Homo sapiens: one gene and its partners. The protein of the gene in region 4 purifies or fractionates together with the protein of the main gene of each other region. This does not show direct contact. Each region holds a gene or a part of one and is shown on either strand. Other genes may lie near its edges. The genes, in order: ELF2, NMD3, PLS1, PRPS1, ACSS2, NMT2 and SMIM26.

Region 1 (4,072 bases), on a different chromosome or scaffold from region 4:
AACATAGATGTTTCACTGGTTTCCAAGCTATACTAAATAGCATTAAAAAGGTTTTTCAGTATATTTTTCATCTGGCAATAGTATTGTTGAAGCTTACAAAATGAGAAAGTTATAAATAATGAACATTTTATGAGATGTCTACCTGTTTCCACATTCTCGGTCTCAACTTCTTGTTCTTCTGCCACATCTTGCATCATATAAGTCTCATCATCATAAACCAGAACCTGGGCTGCATAGCCCTGCTCTAATCTGGCACTTGGAACTGGCTCCACAATCACTGCTGGATATTCAGAAACCTTTTCACTTTCCTATAAGAGCAAATTTAAAGAACAATCAACCTTTGTATTTACAAATTCTGAATTCACTTATAAATCCTTGAACTAATACAGTCTCGAGCAGTCCACATAATGAGTTTCAAATATTATAAATATGAATGTAAAAGCCAAAACAAGAGATGAAAAGGGCTAACTTTAATAATCCTTTCAAGTCTCAAGAGGTAAGACATAGATTAAACATTTTAAATAATCTGTGCTTTAGGATTAAGTTGGCAGATTAAAAACATGCATATAATTTCACTTAATTATGAAAGCTGACTAAAACAACAGTAAAAGACTCTTTTATACCTAAACCCACAAGGACAAGAGGTGAGAGCAACAAACAAGAAGAGGTAAGAACAACAAAATCCTGGAAGACTGAAAGTGTCTGGATGAGTATGGAGTGGGTTAGCAGACCCAGCAAAGCCAAATCAGTCTGGCAGCAAAAAAAAAAAAAAAAAAAAAATCTGAGAAACAACACACTGTACAGTGTAGAGAATCTACAGAAAGCAACACCAATTACATGCACTTTTGATTCCTAGACCTTCTCTCTCCTTCATGATGCTAAGCAACCAGACCTCCTCCACCTCAGCAGAAGACAGGTTACTTTCCAGAGAGGAACAACAATAGCATCTTTGAGGCATAATAGGCACAGTTGTTAGCATCATACTCTACCCAAAATGGAGTGTCCAACTAGCTTTTTAGTCCATCACTTTTAGTCATGAACAAAAAGCCAAATATTCATATTCCACACACAGAGAAGATATTATAAAGTAAGAACAGATCACAATTCAGTAAAGAACATTTTAAAATACAAGTAAAAGAATTTTTGGAAATTAAAGATACAATAGCTGAAATGAATACAGGCTTGGAAGATAAAATTGAGGCAATCTCCAGGAACCAGAGGAAAAAAGATAAAGCAATAGAAAACAGGAGAGAAAAGATGGCAATATTAGATGACCAACCAGTCCAGGAGGTCCACTATCTGAATAACAGAGTTCCAAAAAAATAAATCATAAGGAAAAAACAAGAAATAGAAAGGAAAAAAAAAAAAGGTTTGGAAAGAAATCAACAAGAAAGAAGTAAATCAATAAAATTTTCTAAGACTGAAGGATATAAGCCACCCATTTGAAAGGACCCACCAAGTGTCTAGTACAAAAAATTAAGGAACACATACATTGAGGCATATCACTGTGAAATATCATAATATTGGGAACAGAAAAGATTCTACAAGCTTCTAGAAAGAAAACACAGGTTACTACAAAGAATCAGGACACAGACTTCAGTCTTCTCAACAGTCATACTAGAAGGAAGATGACAGTTGAGCAATTTCTTCAAAATTATGAAGAAAAATTACTTCCAATCTAGGATTCTTCACCCAGTCAAATCATCTTATAGAAGTAGAATAAAGGTATCTTCTCAGACATGAAAGATCTCAAACATTTACCTTTCATGTTTCCTTTCTCAAGAAGATACTGGAGAATGTATCCCATCAATAAGAGAGAGTGAATTTTTTAAAAAAGAGAACTATTGCAAATACAGGATAGAAGAGATCAACATAGGAGAGAAACAATGGGAATCTTCAGGAAGACTGTGAAGAGAGATTCCACGATGCTAGCTATGCACCAGATTTAAAGGGCAACCAGTCCAAAATATAGCAGTGTGACTCCTGAGATAGCATGATGAACTGTCATTACTACGATAACCATTGACCTTGTTCCTAAGGACAGAATGTCCAGATCAGTCTGTTCTAGATTTTTATTGACATTTGGCTTACCTTCATGTACCTACTCACTCCACCTGCCCTGCTGCCTGGATCAGCTAAGAACACATTTCACCCCCCAGATGTGTTCTGCTTTGATCTACTATGTGTTGGAGGAAGATTACCATGGGCTTAAAATAAAAGATACAGAACAGCGTTCTTCATGTGACCATATACCTCCTGAACAAATATGCAATACCCAGCCCATACCATACTGTAGCACTGCCAGATACCAGAGCAGGATGTGCCTTACATTTCTAAAAACTCATGGCATTGCTCACTGACTACTTGAAGACAAGCTCATGACACTCAGTGAACCTGACTATTCAGCTATCTTCTCCTGGAAGCCTTCATCTATCTATGATAATATTGCCCTTTCCTAACTCAATTAGCTTGGTAAACTATTTTTTCAAAATAAAATATTGTTTAGGACTATTTTCATAGGTGGCAAAACTATAAAGAAAAGTAAAGAAATTATAATACATAAGTCAAAACAATAGCACCTCTGGAAACAGCGCCCAGCCGGGTTTTAATATTTCAGTGATTCCTTCTCTTTGACCATAAAAAAGCTAAAATCATTTTGCATTAAAAAATTCAGGGTTCATGCCTGTAATCCCAGCACTTTTGGAGGCTGAGGTGGGCAGATCACCTGAGGTCAGGTGTTCGAGACCAACCTGGCCAATACAGTAAAACCCCATCCCTACTAAAAATACGAAAATTAGCCAGGCATGGTTGCATGCGCCTGTAATCCCAGCTACTTGGGAGGCTGAGGCATGAGAATTGCTTGAACCCGGGAGGCAAAGGTTGCAGTGAGACAGGATCACACCACTGCATTCCAGCCTGGCTGACAGAATGAGACTCGGTCTCAAAAAAAAAAAAAAAAAAATTCAGACCAGGTTCAGCGGCTCACACCTGTAATCCCAAAACTTTGGGAGGCCAAGGCAGGAGGACTGCTTGAGCCCAGGAGTTCAAGACCAGCCTGGGCAACATAGGGAGACCCTATCTCTAGAAAAAATAAAAAATAAATATCAGCCGGGCGTTGTGGCTCTTGCCTATAGTCCTAGCTACTTGGGAGGCTGAGGCAAGAGGATTGCTTGAACCCAGTAGGTGAAGGCTGCAGTGAGCCATAATCATGCCTTTGCACTCCAGCCTGGCAACTGAGAACAAGTCTCAAAAATTAAAAAAAAAAAGAAAAATATTAAACTCTCATTTCTTTTAACTGAACTTTTAACTGATCTTTAACTGAAGTTAAAAGGCAACAAGTCCAATTAAAGAAGTTCTTTAACTGAACTTTAACTGATCGATCGAGACGTATACTTGTATACATTTCTCAAAAAAATAGTCTAACTCCTTGACTTATCTATATATTCCTTGTAATCTATGTTCCACCACCTCACTGAAGCTATTCTCTAAAAATATTTTTTTGCTTTTTTTTTTTTTTTGAGACAGGGTCTAGCTCTGTCGCCCAGGTTGGAGTGCAGTGGCACAATCATGGCTCACCGCAACCTCTGCCTCCCAGGCTCAAACCATCCTCCCACCTCAGCCTCCTGAGTAGCTGGGACTACAGGCATGTGCCACCACTCCCAGCTAATTTGTGTATTTTTGGTAGAGACAGGGTTTCACCATGTTGCCCAGGCTGGTCTTGAACTCCTGGACTCGAGCAATCCACTTGCCTCAGCCTCCCAAAGTGCTGGCATTACAAGCATGGGCCACCATACCCAGCCTCAAAATGTTAATAACGACCAAATTCTATTTCAGTTTTCAATCTCTACTGCCTCCCCGCAGACTCATACATTTATTATTACCCTCATTTAAAAAATTCATTCTTCCAACTTTCTCTACCACTCTACTTTCTTTTTTGAAATGGAGTTTCGCTCGTTGCCCAGGCTGGAGTGCAATGGCGCAATCTTGACACACCGCAACCTCTGCCTCCCAGGTTCAAGTGATTCTCCTGCCTCAGCCCCCTGAGTAGCTGGGATTACAGGCATGTGCCACC
Region 2 (4,072 bases), on a different chromosome or scaffold from region 4:
TACTCTATGGCAATCTCCACACATTTGGGACTGAACAACATAATCCACCACAAACACTTGTTGAAGGATAGCACCATTCATCACCTGATAAAACAATTACACTCCTTCATTCTTTTGGTTTTGTTTAATAACAAATATTTTCTTTAAAGAAGAACCTTTAATATTTAATTTAAAACTTTTTCCATTAATGCTTTGAGGACATCAATCAAATGTCCTCAAATTTAAAGTCATAAAAACAAGTTATACTATTTCAAGAACGGTATACAGATTTAATTCCTAAGATTTATTAGATTAGCATTTCAAATTTTCCTTTAGCTGAAGTGGTTGTGAGAATATTCTGTGTATATTTTACATATATATATATATATATAATTTTTTTTGAGACAGGGTCTCACTCTGCCTGTTGCCCAGCCTGGAGTACAGTGGCACGATCTTGGTTCACTGCAACTTCTGCCTCCTGGGCTCAAGTGATTCTCCACCTCAGCCTCCCAAGTAGCACACACCACCACGTCCAGCTAACTTTTGTATTTTTAGTAGAGATGGGGTCTCGAACTCCAGGGCTCAAGTGATCTGCCTACCTTGGCCTCCCAAAGTGCTGGGATCACAGGTGTGAGCCACCATGCCCAGCCTATACATGTTTACATAGAAAAATCATCCTTAGAAGAAAAAAATAAGGAAAACTTCTCAAAAAAAAAATTCCTTAATTTAATGATTCCCAAACATAACTGATCAGAAATCACATGGGAAGCTTTTTAAATACAGATTGAACATTCCAAATCCAAAAACCCAGAATCTGAAATTTCAGCTTCAAAATCTGAAACTTCTTGAGTTTCTAAATGACACTCAAAGAAAATGTTCACTGGAACATTTTGTATTTGAATTAGGGATGTTCAACCAGTTAAGTATAATGCAAAATTCCAAAATCCAAAAAATCCAAAATCTGAAACACTTCTTGTCCCAAGCATTTCAGATAAGGGATACTCAACCTACTTATAGATTCCCGGCCTCACATACAGAGAATTTTTGCTTCAGTTATGATGAGTCATTACAATGATCAGCCAAGTTTGAGGATCAGTACCTTAGACCATGTTTTTACTTCAATCCTTTCCTAATAAAAATAACTCTGGAAAAGTAAGTCTGCTAATCAGAAGCAATGACTACTCTTACTAGTGATCTAATTATTTGTACAGATGCTCAAAAGAAAACAAACAGCTAAAATTGAGTGTACTCTTTTTCTTTTAAGCTGTTCAAGCCATAAAATAACTTATCACTGGGTCTTCATTTTCACTACCTGCACTTTAACCATGCTGAGAAAATTATGTACTGCTTACCTCTTTCTGAATAGTCAGTTTAACTTTAAGTCTCTTAGAATGAGGCTCAGTCCAAACAAAGCCTGCATCTACAAGCCGTACCTTCAATAAAACACAAACAAAAAGAAACGTAAGTTCTCACCTAGGAGGAAAAAAAACACGAAAGAACAAATCATCAATAAGCAGATTTCATAAGATGCTTAAGGAATCTGTGATCAGCATACTACACACCATCATCACAAAAAAAGATTAATCATTGGTTACGTAACAACAGCAGCAAATCAAAGGACAACCCAATGACTATATTAATGCAACTGATATAATTTAAGCAAAAATTAAAGTATTTGCATAGGAAAAAAATTCTTTTCCCTTAAAAAAAAAAAAAAAGTACATTGTCCTTTAAAAGGAAATTATATTTTTTGGAGGAAAGCAAAGACCTTGTGACCTCATTATTTATTAGTAACCTCATGAACAAAAGTTTCCACTTGGATTATTCTCTCTATATTCTGTGACTTTTTTTAAGAAGTGACATTGATTAGAGAAGTTGCATGCACTGAATACTAAATCCACAACTATAACTCACTACTAAATCTGCAGCATCTGCATAGGCCAAAACAGTTTGCTATATGTGAAGATCTGAATATAACTCAAGAATGGCCAGAATGGGTGTTTGGGGAGAAGGGGTGGGTGGGAGAACAAGAATGGAGGCTGCTGTAATAACCTGGGCCAGATTGTAGATGATCTGAACTGAGAGGCACTGGAAATAACAAAAGCAGATGCAAGGGCTAGTTAGGAGATAAAAATCTGTAAGATTTATCTGCACAGTCCAAGTGATGCAGAAAAAAAATCTGTAAGATTTAATGGTAACTGGATATGGAAAAGAGGAAGAGAACAGACTCCAGAATGATGCTCAAGTATTTGCTTAGACAACTAGGCAGTACACTTTTTGTGACTACCTATACCGAAATAAACAATGGATATAATGAGAAAAAGATGTTACATTTGATTTCAGACATTTCAGTTTAAGACAGTATCTGTGAGATACCCAAGAGGACTTTTCAGTGAACAGTAAGATACAATTGGTCTGGAGATCTATAAAAAAATTTGGGCTGCAGTTAACAGATTTGAGAGGTATCAGCAGCAGATTATACTTTTATCAAGCACTGTCTGGTAAAAAGTAGACTGGCCACTTTTAGTGTAGATGCAAAGATTCAACACACCAGAGTAAAACCCTCCTCATATAGCTGGCCTCCCTAAAACAAAGCCTAGTAGTTAACAAGTGATGCCAGGTACACAGGGTGATAGGCAGATTCCTATTCCTTCAATCTCCATCAGCAGTGGTTAAAAAAAAAAAAAAAAAAAAAGCCCCAAAGGCACTGAATAAGACTGATCTTCCCCTCAAGCTCCAACCTCCACCTGCAGGAATGGAGAGTCTCCTTGACATCCTGCTCGGCATTCCCCAACACAACCACTGCACTATGTGTCCTCAGACAACCATGACTAATCAACTTTATTAGTCCCTTTCTTTCTTTACCATAGTCCCAGACACCTCAGTCACCCCTATTTCCCATACTCCAATTTCCATATGGTTATGCATATTCCCTATTCTGTCCCCATCTAACACTCCTCCCCGAATCCTAAAACCCTTCTACTGTGCCCTCCGGAGCTCAACATTCATTAACAATGAAATCTCCTAAATCCTCAACTTTGCTGAACATTCCCTTCACCTTCTAGATCTCCTGATTTCTCTCTCCCCTGCAGCTATATAAAGTGATAACTGATTCTTCCTATCACTGGACCAGGCACCAGACAGCTATCGTCCTTGCTCTTCATTGCTAATTACAGACCATTCTCCTTGTCTCCTCCTCAAATATACCCAGCTCTAAGTCTAAAGTCATTAGACTCTACCACCCGCAACTCTCTTTTTTATAGTAATCTATTCATCTTTGTATCACTTGTTTTCATTTCTCAAAAGATTTTAGCTTCTGGCTCACCATCACACTTTCCAACAATATTAATACCTAGCGATTTCAATATCCACACAGGTGATCCCCACAATACCCTGACCTCTCACTCCATTCTTTGAGTTCTTCTTCTCCCAAAATATTATCCACCTTCCTATCTCAGTCACTCATATGCCTCTATTACCAGTAACTGCAAACCCTCCAAACTATCAATTCCAAACATCCTACTCCCTGACTACCACCTCCCATCTTTCCAGCTTATTTCCTCTAGTTCCTGGGCACCAAATATCTTTCAAGCTAATATAATGGACAATCCATTCATCCTACCAACTTTATTCCTCATTCCTCCTCACTAGCTTCAAAATCAATAATCAAAATTATTCTCATGTACACACTCAATTTCCTTGTTCCCTCTCTTATTTCACCTTAGCCACTAGGCTAAATTATAAATTTGGTTAAATCCAGTGCTCTGCCTGCTCTATGCCTTGACTATGTGGCTGACAGAACTACAGAAATAGATGCACACCACAGTGACTAGTCTAAACTTGTAACAGTAACCCTCAGCACTGCCCAGCACCCATCCAACACTGTCCTGGTGCATTTCCTCTAGTTCTAGAGGACTATTTCATATCTTCCGCTCTCTCCTCAAACATCTATCTAACAGCTCTTCCCACATAGCTACTGCCCACGCTTCTGTTTTCTCCAGTACAAAAGAAGGAACCAGAGGAGAATTCCCAGAAGCTCCCACTCAACACCTTCCCTGCTGTTACCACAGATGAATTATCCATACTCCCATCA
Region 3 (3,344 bases), on a different chromosome or scaffold from region 4:
CTGGTTGTGTAAACAAGTCATTTGAGCTATCTTAACTTTATATTCTTCATCTTTTTTTAAAAAAGAATTCCTTTACTATCAAGATGCTAGGGTTTAAAAGGTGGATTAAATAAACTAAAACATGTAAAACAACAAGACAATGTCTTTGTAAGTGTTAGTTCCCTTTCACTATTTCATTTTTCTTTCTGAAAAATATTAAGGGAAGGCTTTTGGATTCATGGTCTAAGAAATATGTGAGTAGAATTTATAAAATTGTTAATTAAAAATTCATCTATTCCCTTTCAAAAGTTTTGTATTTTTTACAGAATGGACACTATAGTTAGCATACTTAGGAGCTATCATGTCCACAAACCTTATTCAGATATGGTGACAACTCTATATTATATATAAAGATTCAAGGAAAAGTATATTTTAAAGGGTTTATTTATGTGTGCTGGTTGCAGAAAAGCTGAACGTTAGGTTAAGTACAAAGAATTTGTAGATTGCCTTCAGTTATATGATCAGAAGAGTCTGAAAATAATGAAAATTAAAGGTCAGATGTTTATGAATGTTCATCTATGCTTTATTTTCTAGGATAAATCTATAAGCACAAGTTTACCTGTCCTAGATTTAATAGATGCCATTGCACCAAATGCAGTTCGTCAAGAAATGATCAGGAGAGAAAACTTATCTGATGAGGACAAGCTGAACAATGCTAAGTAAGCCTTTATGGTTTATATTACAATACATGGCCCTTTAATTCTCTAAAATCCTTATAGGAAAAGTTACTATGCCCTTAAAATTCATATTTTTAAATATAACTTATATGTGAGTCTTAGATTTAAGACTCACAAACTTAACCTTTTCGTAAAACTAATCTTGTCAAAATATTTCACTCTTTTGTTAAAATATGTTAAGTGAAAACACAGTGGATAACACCAAGATATTTTTCTTGTCTCTTCAAGATACGCCATTTCAGTTGCTCGAAAGATCGGTGCCCGGATATATGCATTACCTGATGACCTCGTAGAAGTGAAACCAAAGATGGTTATGACGGTGTTTGCATGCTTAATGGGAAAAGGACTGAACAGAATAAAATAATCATTTCATATGATTTTCTGCCACATTAAACATATTGTATGCCTCACAGTTTACAGGATTCTGAAATGTAGTGGGTGTAAAACCAGAGATTATTTGTATGCTCAAAATAGTTATATATTCATTAATGAATTCAATATCCTGTTCATACTAGTTAGAGCTGGTCAGCCTTTTTGGGTAACACAGTTAATTTACCAACTGATACAGATAATAGAATATATTCATAATCAAGCTGATACTTCATGATTAAATTATTTTTGTTGCTTAAAAGTCGTATTAGACAAGACTAAATCATTCTTTTTTATGGTTCAAAAAAGATGAATACAAACGTTTTTGCAGGTTCTGCTGTGAAATGTGGTTTGATTTTTTTGGTGTGTTAATTTTGATCATAAATGCATTCATACTCATAATCCAGTTTAATCCTTTTATTTGCTTCCTCCAACTATTTAAAGTGGTCCAAAAACACTTTTCTGTAAGTTTCTATACTGTCTAAAACCTTATGGTGACCAGAATTGTTTATTAATATCAAACTTTTTTATATATGAGAACTAATTCTTGAATAAACCCCAAAGTTCACTCTCTTGTTTAAGTAGCAGCAGCTTTTTACTTAAAATTTAATTTTAACTACATTGATACTTTACACATCCTAGTTTGGTAACACAGCTTTAACTATGTCATGCAACATATATATGTTGGTAGGATGTTATTAGAGAGATATGTGTGCATATATATTTTTTTGCACCTGAATCACCCAGCTTTTCATAAGTGGTATGTTTAATTGGTCATTCAGCCAACCATCAGTATTTTCCCCCCACAACATGTGTAACACTTTTCAGTCTGTGGATATCTGATACATTAAGATTTCTTTTTATAAGTATTCATTTTGAATGTGCATATAGTTATTTGACCCCTTCCAAATACTTGTAGCCAAACATTGGCTAGAACATCCCAAGATATGCTGACACTGTCCTGTTAGCTTCATATTATACTTGCTAGTTTAGGTCTCTATAGAAGCCCTATATAATTTAGAATATGCCCACTGAATATCTTTAATAGAAAGTAACATAAAGCTAGTATTCAATGTAGAGTATTTTCATATGTTTTTCACAGCCCGTTACAAATTGGCAATGTTTGGTTAATGTTTGTATTACTTGGAAATCGCTACAGCTTGGACTATTTTTTTCTAAATTTTTAGCATTAGTCCATTTCTGCTGCTAACAATTGAATCCAGAAATCTACTTTCTCCATCTTCCACTGTTAGTGCCAGTGAGCAATACTGTTGTGCAACAAAAATGTCACTTTATCTCAGTGTGAATGAGTAGTCTAAATTCCCTTTCTACCATTGATTTAAATATATATATTGGTAAGAGAGACTGCCCATGTGTTTAGAATAGAATTTTTTAAATGAAATGATCAACAGGTGGAATTTGAAATATATTCTTCTACAAAAGAGATTTCTTTCCCTTTTATATTTTGATGATTGTTTTCTTAAGATTAAGATATGTTCTTGCTCTTTTATAAGATTATTTAAATTATGTTTCCCTCTGATTTTTTTTCACCATTGTATTTACTAAGTTATTGGATTTACATGAAATCTGGCACTTTAGGGTGTTCTTTTTCTCACAGAGTATATTTAATAAAAATGCTGTGTATATAGAAATGTGTTTATATTTATTTCATTTGAAGAAAAATATTCAGCCTTGAAAATTAGTCTAGCATAAGCTTATTTTCCAGAAAAGAAAAGAATTCCTAAATGAGTTAGTAAAACAAAAAAAAAATTGTGTCTGATTTCTTTGAAGATGAGGGTAGTTCTTTTGTTCTTAAATATGAAGAATTATTAAAAACCAACTGTGTGATTACTACAATTTAGTTTGTGCTGAAATAATTCAGGTGAATCAATCCATTCACAAATTTATCATTTATTATGATCCAGATACTATGCTAGACACTGGGGATTCATCTGAAAAAAATACAGATGAAGTCTCCTGACCTCATGTATCACATCCATGTATGATATCCTAGTAGAGAGACAATTCGTAAATAGGAATTTTAGACAGTGATAATGCAGTAGAAGAAATAACATAAGGTAATGTGATAGAGACTGACTTGGGAAATGGAGTGGAGATTATTTGTATTTGGGTGGTCAGGGAAGGTCTCTCTAAGGATATTTGTGCTATAAGTGTTCAGCAGAGAGAACAAATGTAAAGAACCTGAAGCAGGCAGTCCTGTAGGCATCCTAGAAGACAAACAGGTGAACATGACCTGAG
Region 4 (4,072 bases):
TTCCTGACAGCCAGAGGGATAAAGGCATATGCAATCGATTATGTGGTTTTTATTTTCATAAAGTTATTTAGAAACTTCCAGGCAAAAAATCCTAAGAATTTTATGGGTGAGACCTCTAAATAGTGATATCGAGTAACATCATGGACAATATAACAATTTTGTGGGTATTTTTTATATTGACTGATAGTTGAGGCATTTGTAAAGGGAGATAAGCCACTGTGGTCTAAGAATGTTGTTTTCTGGTCTTACTTGATAATGATAAAGTTTTTTGTTTTTTTTTTTTTTGAGACAGAGTCTCGCTCTCTCGCTCTGTCTCCCAGGCTGGAGTGCAATGACTTGATCTCGGTTCACTGCAAGCTCTGCCTCCCAGGTTCACGCCATTCCCCTGCCTCAGCCTCCCGAGTAGCTGGGACTACAGGCGCCCGCCACCACACCTGGCTAATTTTTTTGTATTTTTTAGTAGAGACGGGGTTTCACCGTGTTAGCCAGGATGGTCTCGATCACCTGACCTCGTGATCCGCCCGCCTCGGCCTCCCAAAGTGCTGGGATTACAGGCGTGAGCCACCGTGCCCAGCGATAATGATAAAGTTTTAAAAACATAGCAGAATAGCTTGTCCCTTATACTGTCTGATATCAATTGTCAAACTACATTTGTTCATTTGTTCTCCAACTTTTAATCAAACATCCTGACTCTGGCAAGTGAATGTCTGGAGCACAGATGATACTCTGTGTTCTTGACTGAAACAAGAGCCATAGGCTTCTGATACATGATTGGAAATCAATATGCCTGCCTGACTTTCATTCTCCTCCAGGGAAATGCATATTTTGGTCAAGGAGCTGATATATGGAGGATGAATGTGAGCAGCATTAAAATTTTCTGATTTTTTTTTTTTTTGAGACAGTGTCTCACTCTGTCACCCAGGCTGGAGTGCAGTGGCATGATCATGGCTCCTAACTCCTGGGCTGAAGCAATCCTCCCACCTCAGTCTCCCCAGTAGCTGCAATCACAGGCACTTGCCACCATGCCTAATTTTTAAATTGTTTTGTAGAGAGGAGGTCTCTTTATGTTACCCAGGCTGGTCTCAAACTCTTGGGCTCAAGCGGTCCTCCTGCCTCTGCCTCCCAACCACAGACTTGTTTAACATAAAACCTAAAAGTGACTCTTTTAGCTTGAAATCTCTCGAAGGGCAGAGCTAGTAGTAAAGAAAGATCTGGGCCAGACATGGTGGCTCACACCTGTAATCCCAGCACTTTGGGAGGTCAAGGCGGGCAGATCACGAGGTCAAGAGATCGAGACCATCCTGGCCAACATGGTGAAACCCCATCTCTACTAAAAATACAAAAAATTAGCTGGGCGTGGTGGCGTGCGGCTGTAGTTCCAGCTACTCGGGAGGCTGAGGCAGGAGAATCACTTGAACCCGGGAGGTGGAGGTCGCAGTGAGCCAAGATCGTGCCACTGCACTCCAGCCTGGCGACAGAGCGAGACTGTCTCAAAAAAAAAAAAAAAAAAAAACTGAAAACGTCCCAAAAGTCCCTTGAAATGACCACTGCCTGTTTGTTTTGTTTTGTTTGGTTTGAGACGGAGTCCCGCTCTGTCACCCAGGCTGGAGTGCAGCGGCTTCATCTCCCCATACTGCAACCTCCGCCTCCCAGGTTCAAGCGATTCTCCTGCCTCAGCCCCCTGAGTAGCTGGGACTACAGATGCATGTCCCCACGCCTAATTTTTGTGTTTTTTGGTAGAGACGGGGTTTCGCCATGTTGCCAAGGTTGGTCTTGAAATGGGGAGCTCAGGCAGTCTGCCTGCCTTGGCCTCCCAAAGTGCTGGGATTACAGGCATGAGCCACTGCGTCCAGTCTTAAAAAAGGTTTATCCTAAACTAGTGCATTTTCTTTTTTGTTCTGGCTGCCAGGAATCTCAGCTTCCTTGATTTTAATTGGTTTCTAGTTTGATTTTTTTTCACTTGCTTTTATTTTTCTTGCTTTACAACATAAACTAACCCCATTTGTCTTTTCTTGCTTTTGAGATGAGGGTCTTCCTGTGTTGTCCAGGCTAGACTTGAACTCCTGGGCTCAAGCAGTCCTCCTGCTTCAGCCTCCTGAGTAGCTGGGATTACAGGTGTGTGCCACCACTCCCAGCTCCCTTTCATCTTGGGTTAGAAAGGAATAAATAAGTAATTATCTCCTATGTCAGCTTCTTCTGGCAATAGAATTGCCTCTGCCAGTTTTCATATAAGTCCCTTTTGGAGTTCTCCTTGAAGTTTTGTTTGGGGAGAGAAGGGTGGGTAAAAGTGATCTTGACAGAAATAGGACAGTAGGTAGTTCCTGAAGCCACACAGAAGATAGTGCTTAGAGTGAGATAGAAGTATGGATCTTTTATTTAATAACTCTATTGCCTTTTGATTTGAACTGAAGTTTTCTCTTGTTCAATAGGTATTGTCAGCCATTCTGATCTACTTGTCTATATACACACATACACCTCTCCTTCACCTAGAGGATTAGTTGGAATATAATGTTGTTTGAGGTATCACTAAGGTGATTTTTAAAAATTTTTAAATTATTTTCTTTTTTTTTTCTTAAACCTGGTGAACAGGAGAGGTGATTTTTTTTTCTTGGTAGAGACCCGAGTATGGGCACTGAAACTTTCGTGGTAAAATATAGCCCTACTTCATACTTAGAGTAAATTCCTATGGAGTTACTTAGTAATTGGACCAGAGTACAGTTAACACAGAATGAGGGCAAGGACCACATTTTATTCACCATTGTTTCCCTAGCATCTAGTACAGTGATGAGCATATGAACATTTAATATTTACTGGGTAAATTGCCAGTATGGTAGAGGTGGTACTGTCTTTTGTTAAAGTGTCATTATAGAACAGTAGTGATTCACTCCTTATGATATTTCTACTTCTTTTGCTATTTATGGACTCTGTAACAGTAATAGGTGATGCATCAAATTTTATGTACATCACATGTACCTATATGAAATGAGATACAGGCCACCTGCTAAAATTATGGTCCGGTTATTTGTAAGTACTTTAGACTAACATGTGCCAACCATTTCATGCATCTTTTTCGTGTCTGTCACATGGTAATATTAGAAAATATTACCATAGAAAATGGTAATATTTGTATAGTGCACTGGAGTAAACTGAGGCAGTGAACTGCTTCTGGTATAAGGCTCCTTCAGAGGATCTCCTGAAGCCTAGGTGATCAATATCCACATGTAGCTGTAACCATTCACAGCATACTAGTAGGGAAGCTGTTCTTAGACCTTATTGTCTATAGAAGTATAGTAAAGTCATCCCTCAGTATCCACAGGGGATTGGTCCCAAGACCAAATCTGCAGATATGAAATAGTGTAATATAAATATATATATATATATATATATTTTTTTGATATGGAGTCTTGCTCTGTCACCCAGGCTAGAGTGCAGAGGCACGATCTCTGCTCACTGTAATCTCTGCCTCCCGGTTCAAGCAATTTTTCTGCCTCAGCCTCCTGAGTAGCTGGGACTACAGGTACCTGCCACCACACTCAGCTAATTTTTTTTTTTTATTTTTATTTGAGACGGAGTCTCACTCTGTTGCCCAGGCTGGAGCGCAGTAGCGTGATCTTGGCTCACCGCAACCTGTGCCTCCCGGGTTCAAGTGATTCTCCTGCCTCAACCTCCCGAGTAGCTGGGACTACAGGCGTGTGCCACCATGCACGGCTGATTTTTATACTTTAGTAGAGATGGGTTTTCACTGTGTTGGCCAGGCTGGTCTTAAACTCCTGACCTCAGGTGATCCACCCATCTTGGCCTCCTAAAGTGCTGGGATTACAGGTGTGAGCCACCACACCCTGACTAATTTTTTTATTTTTAGTAGAAACGGGTTTCACCATGTTGACTAGGCTGGTCTTGAACTCCTGACCTCAGGTGATCCGCCCACCTCAGCCTCCCAAAGTGCTGGGATTATAGGCGTGAGCCATCACGCCCGGCCATATGAAATAATCTATGCACATGTTCCCTTATACTTTATTGTTATTTATTTATTTTTTGTAGAGATGGGGTCTCACTGTATTACCCAGGCTGG
Region 5 (4,072 bases), on a different chromosome or scaffold from region 4:
TTCAGTGACATGATTACAGCTCACTGCAGGCTTGACCTCCAGGGTACAAGCGATCTTCCTGCCTCAACCTCCTGAGTAGCTGAGACTACAGGTGTGCACCACCATGCTCAGCTAATTGAAAACGATTTTTTTTTTTTTAGCAATGAGGTTTTGCTGTGTTGCTCAGATTGGTCTTGAACTCCTGGTCTCAGGTGATCCTCCTGCCTTGGCCTCCCAAAGTGTTGGGATTACAGGCATGAGCCAAGAGATCTTCCCATCTCATCTTTCTGAGTGGCTGGGACTATAGGTGCATGACACCACACTCAGCTAAAATTTTTTTTTTTTTTTTTTGAGACAGAGTTTCATTCTTGTTGCCCAGGCTGGAGTACAGTGGCACAATCTTGGCCCACTGCAACTTCCGCCTCCCAGATTCAAGTGATTCTCCTGCCTCAGCCTCCCGAGTAGCTGGCATTACAAGCATGCACTACCACACCCAGCTGATTTTTGTATTTTTAGTAGAGACGGGGTTTCTCCATGTTGGTCAGGCTGGTCTTGAGCTCCTGACCTCACGTGATCCACCTGCCTCGGCCTCCCAAAGTGCTGGGATTACAGGTATGAGCCACCGTGCCCAGCCGGATCCAGCTCAATGTTTTTAGAGATGCGGTCTTGCTATGTTGCCAGGCTGGTCTTGAACTCTTGGCCTCAATAGATGGGCCCACTTTGGCCTCCTAAAGTGTTAGAATTACAGGTGTGAGCCACCGTGCCTGACCCAAGATAGTATATTTTTTAAAAGTATTTCTCCCTAGTCACTCATTTTTATATCATTCTGCTCTATTTATAATGCTTATCATAATCTGAAATTATCCTGGTTATATTTGTTATTTGTTTATTACCCACACTATCATTGGAATATAAGCTCCATGATATCAGGTATCTTACTTATGTTGTTCATTGGTGCCTTATTTCTTCTTTTTTTTGTTTGTTTGAGACGGAGTCTTACTCTGTCGCCCAGGCTGGAGTGCAGTGGCGTGATCTTGGCTCACCACAACCTCCACCTCCCTTCAAGCTATTCTCCTGCCTCAGCCTCCCAAGTAGCTGGGATTACAGGCGTGTGCCACCACACCCAGCTAATTTTTGTATTTTTAGTAGAGGCATGGTTTCACCACATTGGCCAGGCTGGTCTCAAACTCCTGACTTCAGGTCATCTACCTGCCTCAGTCTCCTAGTGTGTTGGGATTACAGGAAAGAGCCACCACGCCCCGCCCATTGGTGCCTTATTTCTATACATGTAGATAGCACATAGTAGTTGTTGAATAAGCAAATGAATGCATGAAGGAATGACTGAAGTAAACCAGGCTAAAGCCTAGGAAGGAGTGGGAGGCAAGGCTGAGGAGGTAGACAGAAATCACCTGATAAAGGATGGCGATTCTCAAACTTTATTTATTTATTCAAGATGGAAACTCACTCTGTCATCCAGACTGGAGTGCAGTAGTGTGATCTCAGCTCACTGCAACCTCTGCCTCCTGGGTTCAAGGGATTCTCGTGCCTCAGCCTCCCCAGTAGCTGGGATTACAGGCACACACCACCACACCCAGCTAATTTTTGTATTTTTAGTAGAGACGCGGTTTCACCATGTTGGCCAGGCTGGTCTCAAACTCCTGACCTTTGATCTGTCCACCTTGGCCTTCCAAAGTGCTGGGATTACAGGCGTGAGCCACCGCGCCTGGCCAATTCTCAAGAATCCCCTACTAATTCCTTGTACCATCTTGTAATAAAGAAGCAGATCCTTGGACCCTGTGATTCTAATTCAGTATGTTTGAGCTGGGGCCCAGGAATCTACAAATCCTCTAGATGATTTAGGCACAAGTGATCTGGAGACCCTACTCTGAATAATGCAGTCTTGATGCCTCATCAGAAGGAATCACATCTGTGATTTCACTTCTCCTTAATACATTACTAGGATGGAAGAGAAGGGGCCGTCACTCCATTTCATCAAGGATCAGAGATGGACAGTGCATTTTCTAATGACATACAACATGTGTATAAAATATCTTGAATGGCCAAAGTATCTGACCCGTCAGCTCAAGATTGGTGATGGCAAGATTGATGGTGGGCAGATAGCTCATCCTCATAGAACAGTTCCAGGCCTTAGTGTCACTGAATGGATTTTATGACTCTGCCTGTTTCTTGTTTGGGGAAGAAGTTATACCCCTAATCACTGGTTCTTTCTGGTATGTCTCAGGGAGGGCAATGAGCCAGGGGAGACCACTCAGATCACATACCATCAGCTTCTGGTCCAAGTGTGTCAGTTCAGCAATGTTCTCCGAAAACAGGGTGAGTGTGGGGGTGTGGGAAAGGACTGGGGGTCTGGCCTTGGGGTATCTGAGTATCTGAGACTTATGGGGAGAGGGCAAGGGATGGAAAGAATTTGGTAACAGAGGAAGAGAACAGGTCAGCTGGGAGGGAGGCCAGCTGGATGGGAGGGAGCAAGTAGCAGCAAGAAGGGTTCATGGTTCATATTCTGTGCTTTTACCTGCAGGCATTCAGAAGGGGGACCGAGTGGCCATCTACATGCCTATGATCCCAGAGCTTGTGGTGGCCATGCTGGCATGTGCCCGCATTGGGGCTTTGCACTCCATTGTGGTAGGAGTTTGGGCTGGTGAAAAGGGGCAGGCGGGGGGGTGGGGCTCTGGAGAAGTAGGTTGGGCCTAGATGATGGAGGGTCTTAAATAACAAACTAAGGAGCTTAGAAGGTTTGTGTCATAGGTCCATATTAGTTATTCAGTTTCTTCTAGGACCCTGGCTTAGAGATCCTGAAAGTTCCATGAGCAACCCCTTTCTTCATTCACTCAATCCCTGGGGCTTTCTTCTCTCCCTCAGACTTTCTTCCCTTCCCTAGTTTGCAGGCTTCTCTTCAGAGTCTCTATGTGAACGGATCTTGGATTCCAGCTGCAGTCTTCTCATCACTACAGGTGACTAATTCTCTCACCTCTTCTCCAGAACCCCCCATACCTCAAGCCTTGGTCTCCAATCAGCTCATTGGTATTTGGGGCTACTCAGCATAGAGGGTAGAGACTGCCTGCCTTTTCTCTCCTGGTCCCACCTCAGCTGACCCTCTGTCAGCTCGAATCAGCTGGAAGAGCCAGAGTTAAGAGGCCTACTCAGGAAGGGCCCTATGGACATTGTGCCCACTAGGCAGCATGGGGCTTACTAAGGCCTGGAATGTCTGTTGCTCCCCAAAGATGCCTTCTACAGGGGGGAAAAGCTTGTGAACCTGAAGGAGCTGGCTGACGAGGCCCTGCAGAAGTGTCAGGAGAAGTAAGTGTGTTTGGCTACTGTCTGAGTTGACTGAGCCTTTCCCCAGTGCCAGGTTCCCTTTGTCCCCTCTACCCTAAATGGACATGGGTGGGTCTTGCCAAGTTCCCTTTGAGCCAACAAGGCTACCACTTTAGGCTTTTCTCTTCTCCAGGGGTTTCCCAGTAAGATGCTGCATTGTGGTCAAGCACCTGGGGCGGGCAGAGCTCGGCATGGGTGACTCCACCAGCCAGTCCCCCCCAATTAAGAGGTCATGCCCAGATGTGCAGGTGAGTCTGGCACTGCTATGCCTTTCTCCAGGCTCAAATTCCTTCACTTTTCCTGCCTAGAAAATTCTTGATGTCCTTCTTTGCCTGCTCATCAGTATACTGAGGATCCAGGAGCAATTCTAGGAATGCCTCCTCTAGCAGGGCTAGGTGGGAACTGGAAGACTTTGACCTTGACTGTGGGTAGAGAGGCCCTTGTACCTTGAGAACATAGCACAAGCGATTGTAAGGGAGACTCCTATGCTGGTTGGGGTATCCTTGTGGGCACAGGGGATCCTCAGGGCCTAGGCTTGTGTTAGAAATGTCTAACTTGAGTGACAATATATAGTCATCTCCATTACTAGGCTGTGATGTGGGGTGGGCTATCTTTGTGGCCTAAGGGATGCCCACCTTGGAAGGACCAGAGTCCAGCCCTCACAATATGGCCTTTGTTAGCTTTGGACCCCCAGGCTTCTGGTGGGAATGGTAGAAATGCCCAGTGATGGCCTCCAGGCTGAGCAGCATGAGGGATC
Region 6 (4,072 bases), on a different chromosome or scaffold from region 4:
CTAGTGATCTCTCGGATTAGCACTGGGGCTACCCGTTTCGATCTCAACTTCTTATGAACACAAAGAAAGTTGATTTCTACCATCTTCTTCACACTAAGAAATAAAGATGGTGAAGATTAAGAGTCAAAACGAGATTCAAAATGAAGAGTCAACACATTTTAAAAAATAAGATGATACCCAGGAAATATCCAAGAATAAGAATGCAGGCTGGGAACACTGGCTGTCGCCTGTAATCTCAGCACTTTGGGAGGCCAAGGCAGGTGGATTGCTTGAGACCAGGAGTTCCAGACCAGCCTGGGCAACACTGAGACTCTCATCTCTACAAAAAACAAACACCAGCCAGTCATGTTGCCGCATGCATGTGGTCCCAGCTACTTGGGAGGCTGAGGTGGAAGGATCACTTGAGCCTGAGAGGCAGAGGGTGCAGTGAGCCATGATTGCATCACTGCCCTCCAGCCTGGACAACAGAGCAAGGCCCTGTCTCAAAAAAAAAAAAAAAAAAAAAAAAGAAAAGAAAGAAAAAGAAAAAAAAGAACATAAAGGCCATTCTATTTTCTTCTTTCTTTCTTTTTTTTTTTTTTTTTTTTTGAGACAGATTGTCGCACTGTCACCCAGGCTGGAGTGCAATGGCGCAATCTTGGCTCACTGTAACCTCTTACTCCTGGGTTCAAACGATTCTCCTGCGTCAGCCTCCTAAGTAGCTGGAATTACAGGTGCACGCCACCATGCCCAGCTCATTTTTGTATTTTTAGTAAAGACAGGGTTTCACCATGTTGGCTACGCTGGTCTCGCATTCCTGACCTCATGATCTACCTGCCTCGATCTCCCAAAGTGCTGGGATTATAGGCGTGAACCACCCACCGCACCTGGCCTGAAAGCCATTCTTTAACACAATATTTAACAAAAATATTCTATCACTTAGACATTTCACAAATTCAGACGGAAACACTATTCCCCATATCTCCCTGCCAAAATGATTGTAAAACGCACGGAGGCTCCAACCCTCTTGTTCTAAATACATTTTGGGACTTTGGTCCATTATACGTTTTCAGTTTAGAAAATGGATCAGCTATGGCTCTTTACGTTTCTTTCCTTTTTTTTTTTTTTCCTTTTTTGAGATGAGGTCTCGCTATGTTGACCAGGCTGGTCTCGACCTCCTGGCCTCAAGCAATCCTCCCATCTCAGCCTCCCAGTGCTAGGATTACAAGCATGAATCACTACGACCTGCCCGTCTTTAAGTTTCTAGATCTGTTTTTCCTAAATTATGGTAATAACTGAGTCATCCTGGTGCAGAATCTGATAAGATGTTGCTTTGGAGTGTGATACAAACCCCTGGGACCCCTGAGAGGGGCTTTGAGCAGACCAGAGCTGGTGCGCTCTGAACTACAGTAAACCTCCTAGATCTTCAAATCCTGTTCCTGGTTCTGTTTCCAGGTACACACTTCATTTGGCACAAAATATTCCTTGAGATCAAATGCTTTTCACAGTAAATAAGCTAACCTAATACACTGACAAGTAAAGAGACCAATTATATATGACATCTTTGACTTTCATAGCTGGATCTTTGACTTTCCGGGCTGGAGATCCAAACTAAAAGTGCAATGTATCCTATGGAGAGAAAGCTTTATCTCTCCTAAAAAATTTTTAAGTAATTTTTTTTTTTTGAGATGAAGTCTTGCTCTGTCACCCATGCTGGAGTGCAGTGGTATAATCTTGGCTCACTGCAATCTCTTCCTCCTGGGTTCAAGTGATTCTCGTGCCTCAGCCTCCCAAATAGCTAGGATTACAGGCACGTGCCACTATGCTGGCTAATTTTTGTATTTTTAGTAGAGATGGGGTTTCGCCATGTTGGCCAGGCTGGTCTCGAACTCCTGACCTCAAGTGATCTGCCAGCCTCGGCCCCGACCAAAGTCCTGGAATTACAGGTGTGAGCCACTGTGCCTGGCCAAGGCTTCGTTTTTTCTGATACATATATGTGTGAGCATGTATGAGATTGAGAGGCAGAGAGAGAAAAAGAGAAAAAGAAACCATTGTCCTTTATTTTTATTCACAGTCCGTTTTTTTTTCTTTACTACTTAATAAATTTATATTTTAAAACAGTTTTAGGTTCACAGCAAAACCAATCAGAGAGTTTCCATAAAGCCTCTGCCTCCACACATACACAACCTCCCTGATCACCGGACAGCTTGCATTCAGTCATTTTTATTTTTATTTTTATTTTTTTTGAGATGGAGTTTCGCTCATGTTGCCCAGGATGGAGTGCAGTGGCGCAATCTCGGCTCACTGCAACCTCCGCCTCCTGGGTTCAAGCAATTCTCCTGCCTCAGCCTCCTGAGTAGGTGGGATTACAGGTGCCTACCACCACGCCCAACTAATTTTGTATTTTTAGTAGAGATGGGGTTTCACCCATGTTGACCAGGCTGGTCTTAAACTCCTGAGCTCAGGTGATCTATCTGCCTCAGCCTCCCAAAGTGCTGGGATTAGAGGTGTGAGCCACTGCGCTTGGCCTGCATTCAGTAACTTTTAAAGGCCTAATCTAATTGTAATTCTTAGAAAATAAACATATAAAAACCGCATGGACGAGCTTAAACATGTACCTGTCATAAATCCGAATGTTTGCTGGGATGGCACTTATGAACCCGACCAGTTTTTTATTTGAAGACACTCTGACCCCACAGTGCCACTGCAGGAGCCAGCCTGGTGGACGCAGAGCCCTGAGGTCACGGTAGACAAGAAAACAGGCACCAGTTATTGTCCAAGAACACAGGAACAGACGCAGGAGTCCCCAAGTCAGCAGCGCCTATCCACGACATCTGTGATCGATGAGACTTACCACAACAGGAACTCGGGTGAATAGTCAAATCGGAACATATTGTCATCATCTTCTACGTAATTCTCATTTAACAACGTGTATAACTCCTTGAGCTATAAGATAAAACAAGTGTCCTATCCATGGTGCTCAGAATCAACTTAGAAGCAATGTGTGAATGCAGGAGTTGAATTTAAGAGGTTTTTACTCACTCACCACTTCGGCATCACTCAAGTCTAAAGTGTCCCACATAAAACCCTGTGGCAAAGAATACGGTTCTTGGCGTACGTTGTCTTTATCTGGTTCAATTGCACCATGAGATGTTATGACTTCATCTGAACAGGGAGAGAAAGAGAAAAAAGAAAGGCAAAAAGCGAGAATATTAAATGACAAAGTATTCTAACCATCCAAAGTGGTCAGTGACATAAGCAAAATCTGACTTAGGGCCCTCGGGTTTCAGATAATCTTTAAAAAGATGCTGTTATATCAAGCGCCTCTGGACTGAAACAGGAAAGCTAGGCAGTGGTGTGAAATCATTGCTGTTTCACCAATTATTTTTCTTTTCTTTTTTCTTTTGAGACGGGGTCTCACTCTGTCGCCAAGGCTGGAGTGCAGTGGTGCAATCATGGCTCACTGAAGCCTTCAACTCCTGGGCTCAAGCGATCCTCTCTCCTCAGCCTCCCAGGTAGCTGGGACTAGAGTTGTACAACACAGTGCCCGGCTAATTGTAAATTTTTTTTGTAGAGACGGAGTCTCATTATGTTGCCCAAGCTGATCTCAAACTCCTGGGTTCAAGTGATCCTCCCACCTCAGCCTCCCAAAGTGCTGGGATTGTAGGTGTGAGCCACCACAGCTGGCCTATTTTGCCAATTAAATGAAAGGAGAAATCCTTTGTCATCCAGTGACAAAGATGACATTACAAAACAACAGTGATTCCGAGTCTCAAGGCCTACAATGCAGCCTTATCTTACACACTGTCATAAGCAATGTAGGTTTCATTCAACAGCCTTGGGAGGTGTGTTCTTTTTACTGCATTTCCACAAACTGGGAGAGGAAAGGGCTGCGGTGACCTCTGCCCCTCCCAGCAAAACCTAAAAATAATTTCAAGGCTGGTTACTTCTCCCCATCTAAACTGCTAGCAGCGTAGTTCAGGCCATCACAATTTCTAGTGATTTCCACCAAGAAGAGTTTTCCAAGTCCTTCTCTGCAGAGCTTCCCAACATGGTAGGACTAAAACCCAGGCTCTTCCCCATGGCTGCTGCC
Region 7 (4,512 bases), on a different chromosome or scaffold from region 4:
CGATGGGTATTGGGGGTGGTTTCTATTTTTTCCTATTAAGAATAAAACTATGAACATTCATGTACATGGCTGTGTGCAGACACAGGTTTTCATTTCTCATGGATAACTAGAAACGGAATGCCTGGGTTATATGGTAGGCATATGTTCAACTTTTTAAAAACTAAGTTTTGCAAAGAGATTGTAACATTTTATGTTCCCATCAATAACAGTTCCAATTATTCCAAATCCTTACAGCTCTTGGCATTCTCAATCTGATTTTAGCCATTCTAGTAGGTGTGTAATGGTCTCTTATTGTATTCTTTTAATGTCCATTTCTGTGATGACTAATGATGCTACTGTGCTTATTGGTCATTTGTATATCTTCTTTCGTTCTATTCAAATTTATTGCCTGGTTTTTAGTTGGGCTGTATTTTTATAACTGAGTTGTAAAGCGTCCTCATATATTCTGGATCCAAGTCCTTTTGTTAGATATATGTTATTATGAATATTTTATTCTGTGGCTTGGCTTTTCATTTTCTCAACTGTGACCTTCAAAGAGCAAAAATTTTAATTTTTTTTTAAAAGCCCTATTTATCCATTTTCGCTTTATGCATATATATATAAAATGAGATGGGGTCTCACTATGTTGGCCTTGCTGGTCTGGAACTCTTGGGTTCAAGCAATCCTCCCTGCTCTACCTCCCAAAGTGCTGGGGTTACAGGCATGAGCCACCCCGCTTGGGATGCCTTTTTTATTCTAAGAATTCTGTGCTTATTCCAAGATGGCAAACATATTCTCCTGGTTTTTTTCTAGGCTTATATTAAATAGTTTTAGCTTTTACATTTAAGTCAGCGATCCATTCAGAGTTAAGTTTTTTATCTATTTCTGTAGGGCAGAACATCAGTTTTTAAAGGGTGGGCAAGGTGAAAAGAACCCTGAAGGATACCAGGGAAAATGATGTTTCTGAAGCCATGAAAGGTGCAGGTGGGGTCAGTGGTGGCAAATGCTTTCGAAACCAAGTTTGAGTGTGGCTGAAAAGTACTTAACGTTAATTTACCGGGCCTACCTTGTGCCAAGCACATCACACTTGCTCTTAAGTTGTTCAGTCTATTGAGGGCATCTTGCTTTAAAAAATGTATGCATAAGACAAAAGCTGGAGGTGGTCGGAGTCGAAGGAGATTTTTTGTTTTTGAGACATGGGCACGTTTGTATGAAGGATAAACGTCAATAATGAAGATGGGGGAGGACTTAGGGTGTCAATGAGGGGAAAGGCCACTGAGGCTGGAAAAAATAGTACCCAGAGCCTAGTGGAGGGATTAGCTTTGGCCTGGAAGTATTTAAAGTTCACCCAGAGTTCCGGAAAGAAAAATGGAGGAAAAGAAGAGTTGCGGGGAGAGACAAGCGGTATCCCTGCAAATCTGAAAACTGGAAGAGGAATTGGAAGTAACCTTTTCGGATACCGTCTGGAGCCCACGAAGGCATTACAATTTTGCAAGTGAGAAGCTTCTCCTCTAAGTTGTCATTTAGTCCTCGTCACGTGGTAAAAAGTATCGCACGCCCACAGTTCTACACCCGAAAGTCCGGACACCTGAGCGACTTTCCGGGCCAGAGGCCCCAAGGTGCATCGGGGCAGAGCCGGAAGCGGACGCTGAAAACTGGCGGCTCCTTAATGGTTCCGGCGGCAGGGACCGCAGCGACGCCCTCACCGGAAGTCCCGCCTCTGCCGTGGGCCTGCGAGAATCGAGGCACTCGCTGGCGTACCCATGTATCGAAATGAGTTCACGGCCTGGTACCGGCGGATGTCGGTGGTCTACGGGATCGGCACCTGGTCTGTGTTGGGCTCACTGCTTTACTATAGCCGGACAATGGCGAAGTCGTCAGGTAGGGCTCTTCGGCGGGGCCTGCCCCGGAACACACGGCCTTCGATGAGAGTTCCCCGGGGGTCATGGAAACAACTTCCCTGTCCTTTAAATCCCAGGTTTATTCTGCAAAACTAATTGAAACGGGTGCTAACAGCCGTTTGTTATAATGGAATCTGCAAAGAACTAGACTCCAGGAATTATTAATACCTTGTAAATATTGTTTCCTAAATCTGAATCATTTACTGGATAGGGCCGTCCCCATATTCAGAATTGGAGGAATCTGTGTAAAGTGCAAGGTGGACTTTCAGAGACTCTGGCCGGTGATTTTTAAAGAGTGATGCTTCAGTACTACTGTCCCTCATCGTATATGGCGAGCAATTTCAGTACTTTTAGCAGCCAAGGCGTATTAAAATCTTCCAGTTACTAAGCGCAAAGGGAGAAAAGTCTCTCAGCTTTGAAAAATATGCTGGAAATCTGTAGAGACATTAAGTTGATTAGTGTGGTTGCTAGGGGCTGAGGGGTTGGGGAGTTGGGGAATGACTGCCAAAGGTATGGATTCCTTTTGTGGATGAAAGTATTTTTAAATTGATTGTGGTGCTGGTTGCACAAATCTGAATATACTAAAAACATTAAATTGTATATTTTAAGTGGGTTAATCGTATATGTTAATTATATCTCAGTAAAGTTGTTGTGTAAAAACTATGCTGAAGATTACATTTGGTGATGAAGCTGTCAGTGGCCTGAAAGTACATGTGTCCAGCATTAAGCATTTAAAAACATTTTGGCCGGGTGCAGTGGCTCACGCCTGTAATCCCATAACTTTGGGAGGCCGAGGTGGGAGATTGCTTGAGCCCAGGGGTTCGGGACCAGCCTGGGCAACATGGGGAGACCCCCATCTCTACCAAAAGAAAAAGAAATTTTTATATATAATATTTTATATTTACTTTATATGTAATATATGGTAAAAATACTTTACATTTATATATAAAGTAAAAATATTTTAATGTCCATATTTATGTTTTCTTTCTTTCGTTCTTTTTTTTTTTCTTTTTGACAAGGTCTCACCCTGTCGCCCAGGCTTGAGTGCAGTGGCATGATCTCGGCTCACCACAACCTGCGTCTCCGGGCTCAAGTGATTCTCCTGCCTCAGCCTCCCGAGTAGCTGGGATTGCAGGCGCAGGCCACTGCTGCCCGGCGAATTGTTTTATTTTTTTTTTGAGACAGAGTCTAGCTCTGTCGCCCAGGCTGGAGTGCACTGGCGCTATCTTGGCTCACTGTAACCTCCATCTCCCAACTCAAGCAGTCCTCCTGCCTCATCCTCCCCAGTAGCTGGGGTTATAGGCCCATGCCACCACGCCCAGCTAATTTTTGTATTTTTAGTAGAGATGGGGTTTCACTACGTTGGCGAGGCTGGTCTCAAACACCTGACCTCAGGTGGTCCACCTGCCTCGGCCCCCACAAAGTGAGATTGGGATTACAGGCGTGAGCCACCGCACCCAGCTTTTCTTTTCCCTTCCTTTTCATTCCTTCCTTCATTATTGGGGTTGGAGAGAGTGGATGTAATTCTTACCTTAGTTAATTTCTAAGACTTTAATGACTGCTTTCTAAGTTAATAATTCAGGTGTTCTTTTTTTTTTTTTCTCTTAATGGTGATAAAGTAGACCAAAAGGATGGCTCAGCAAGTGAAGTACCCAGTGAACTCTCTGAACGCCCAAAAGGATTTTATGTGGAAACAGTTGTCACATATAAAGAAGATTTTGTTCCAAATACAGAAAAGATCCTCAACTATTGGAAATCATGGACTGGTGGCCCTGGTACAGAACCATGACTGGCTGCTGAATTCTGAAAACCAGGACTTGGTTCAACATTTAAATTTGATAGTTGCCCTGATTCCCATTTTGGGTTTGTGAAAAGTGTATGTATTTAAATTTGCTGTAAAACATAATCACTAATAATATGCAATAAATATTTTCTTGAAGGAAACTATCTGCGTTTTCTTTTTTTTTTTTTTTTTTGAGACGGAGTCTTGCTGTGTCACCCAGGCTGGAGTGCAGTGGCTCGATCTCGGCTCACTGCAAGCTCCGCCTCCCAGGTTCATGCCATTCTCCTGCCTCAGCCTCCCGAGTAGCTGGGACTAAAGGCGCCTGCCACCATGTCTGGCTAATTTTTTGTGTTTTCAGTGGAGACAGGGTTTCACCGTGTTAGCCAGGATGGTCTCCATCTCCTGACCTTGTGATCCGCCTGCCTCAGCCTCCCAAAGTGCTGGGATTACAGGTGTGAGCCACGGTCCCCGGCCTACTATCTGCATTTTCAAGAGGTGTTCCTCTGTATTTGCATGAGTGAAAGATTGCTGTGAAATTTCACATAGAGCTTCCATAAGCTTGATTTCCTGAAACTAGTTAATGTAGATTTATATTTCTTTCATGTTGCTATTAGGCACAGCTTTAGTGGTCGCTTTAAGGTTAGTTTCAGCAAATCTCCATATTCACTTTGGGATTCACAGTAGCCCTTTGGGTACTACTGCGTACTGGGTAAGTATGATATAAATTTGATTGTAACTTCTGAATTAAACAGACTGGACCTATTCTTTAGGACCAGTGCACATACCCCTCATTCCTTCAGCAAGTGTGGATTACCCACCAACTGTGGCCAGTGCTATTCTAATGCTGGG

Evidence for each region.
Region 1: the proteins of PRPS1 (region 4) and ELF2 purify together in Homo sapiens (affinity purification with mass spectrometry; 3 studies listed by BioGRID and IntAct, with this or other methods). This does not show direct contact.
Region 2: the proteins of PRPS1 (region 4) and NMD3 fractionate together in Homo sapiens (co-fractionation; one large-scale study listed by BioGRID). This does not show direct contact.
Region 3: the proteins of PRPS1 (region 4) and PLS1 purify together in Homo sapiens (affinity purification with mass spectrometry; 3 studies listed by BioGRID and IntAct, with this or other methods). This does not show direct contact.
Region 5: the proteins of PRPS1 (region 4) and ACSS2 fractionate together in Homo sapiens (co-fractionation; one large-scale study listed by BioGRID). This does not show direct contact.
Region 6: the proteins of PRPS1 (region 4) and NMT2 purify together in Homo sapiens (affinity purification with mass spectrometry; 4 studies listed by BioGRID and IntAct, with this or other methods). This does not show direct contact.
Region 7: the proteins of PRPS1 (region 4) and SMIM26 purify together in Homo sapiens (co-immunoprecipitation; one large-scale study listed by IntAct). This does not show direct contact.

The regions. Positions count from the first base shown.
Region 1 is NC_000004.12:139,125,022-139,129,093, forward strand, and holds part of ELF2 (ETS-related transcription factor Elf-2), read right to left. Parts: intron 309-4,072; coding exon 143-308; intron 1-142. UniProt on the Homo sapiens protein: Isoform 1 transcriptionally activates the LYN and BLK promoters and acts synergistically with RUNX1 to transactivate the BLK promoter. Isoform 2 may function in repression of RUNX1-mediated transactivation.
Region 2 is NC_000003.12:161,230,739-161,234,810, reverse strand, and holds part of NMD3 (60S ribosomal export protein NMD3), read right to left. Parts: intron 1,413-4,072; coding exon 1,332-1,412; intron 85-1,331; coding exon 1-84. UniProt on the Homo sapiens protein: Acts as an adapter for the XPO1/CRM1-mediated export of the 60S ribosomal subunit.
Region 3 is NC_000003.12:142,710,928-142,714,271, forward strand, and holds the end of PLS1 (plastin-1), read left to right. Parts: intron 1-573; coding exon 574-698; intron 699-944; coding exon 945-1,080; 3' UTR 1,081-2,737; downstream 2,738-3,344. UniProt on the Homo sapiens protein: Actin-bundling protein. In the inner ear, it is required for stereocilia formation. Mediates liquid packing of actin filaments that is necessary for stereocilia to grow to their proper dimensions.
Region 4 is NC_000023.11:107,634,565-107,638,636, forward strand, and holds part of PRPS1 (ribose-phosphate pyrophosphokinase 1), read left to right. Parts: intron 1-4,072. UniProt on the Homo sapiens protein: Catalyzes the synthesis of phosphoribosylpyrophosphate (PRPP) that is essential for nucleotide synthesis.
Region 5 is NC_000020.11:34,910,875-34,914,946, forward strand, and holds part of ACSS2 (acetyl-coenzyme A synthetase, cytoplasmic), read left to right. Parts: intron 1-2,221; coding exon 2,222-2,313; intron 2,314-2,518; coding exon 2,519-2,622; intron 2,623-2,878; coding exon 2,879-2,951; intron 2,952-3,221; coding exon 3,222-3,297; intron 3,298-3,448; coding exon 3,449-3,563; intron 3,564-4,072. UniProt on the Homo sapiens protein: Catalyzes the synthesis of acetyl-CoA from short-chain fatty acids. Acetate is the preferred substrate. Can also utilize propionate with a much lower affinity.
Region 6 is NC_000010.11:15,130,220-15,134,291, forward strand, and holds part of NMT2 (glycylpeptide N-tetradecanoyltransferase 2), read right to left. Parts: intron 3,145-4,072; coding exon 3,026-3,144; intron 2,926-3,025; coding exon 2,834-2,925; intron 2,715-2,833; coding exon 2,598-2,714; intron 94-2,597; coding exon 1-93.
Region 7 is NC_000020.11:18,565,737-18,570,248, forward strand, and holds SMIM26 (small integral membrane protein 26), read left to right. Parts: upstream 1-1,695; 5' UTR 1,696-1,742; coding exon 1,743-1,860; intron 1,861-3,499; coding exon 3,500-3,669; 3' UTR 3,670-3,824; downstream 3,825-4,512. UniProt on the Homo sapiens protein: May play a role in cell viability.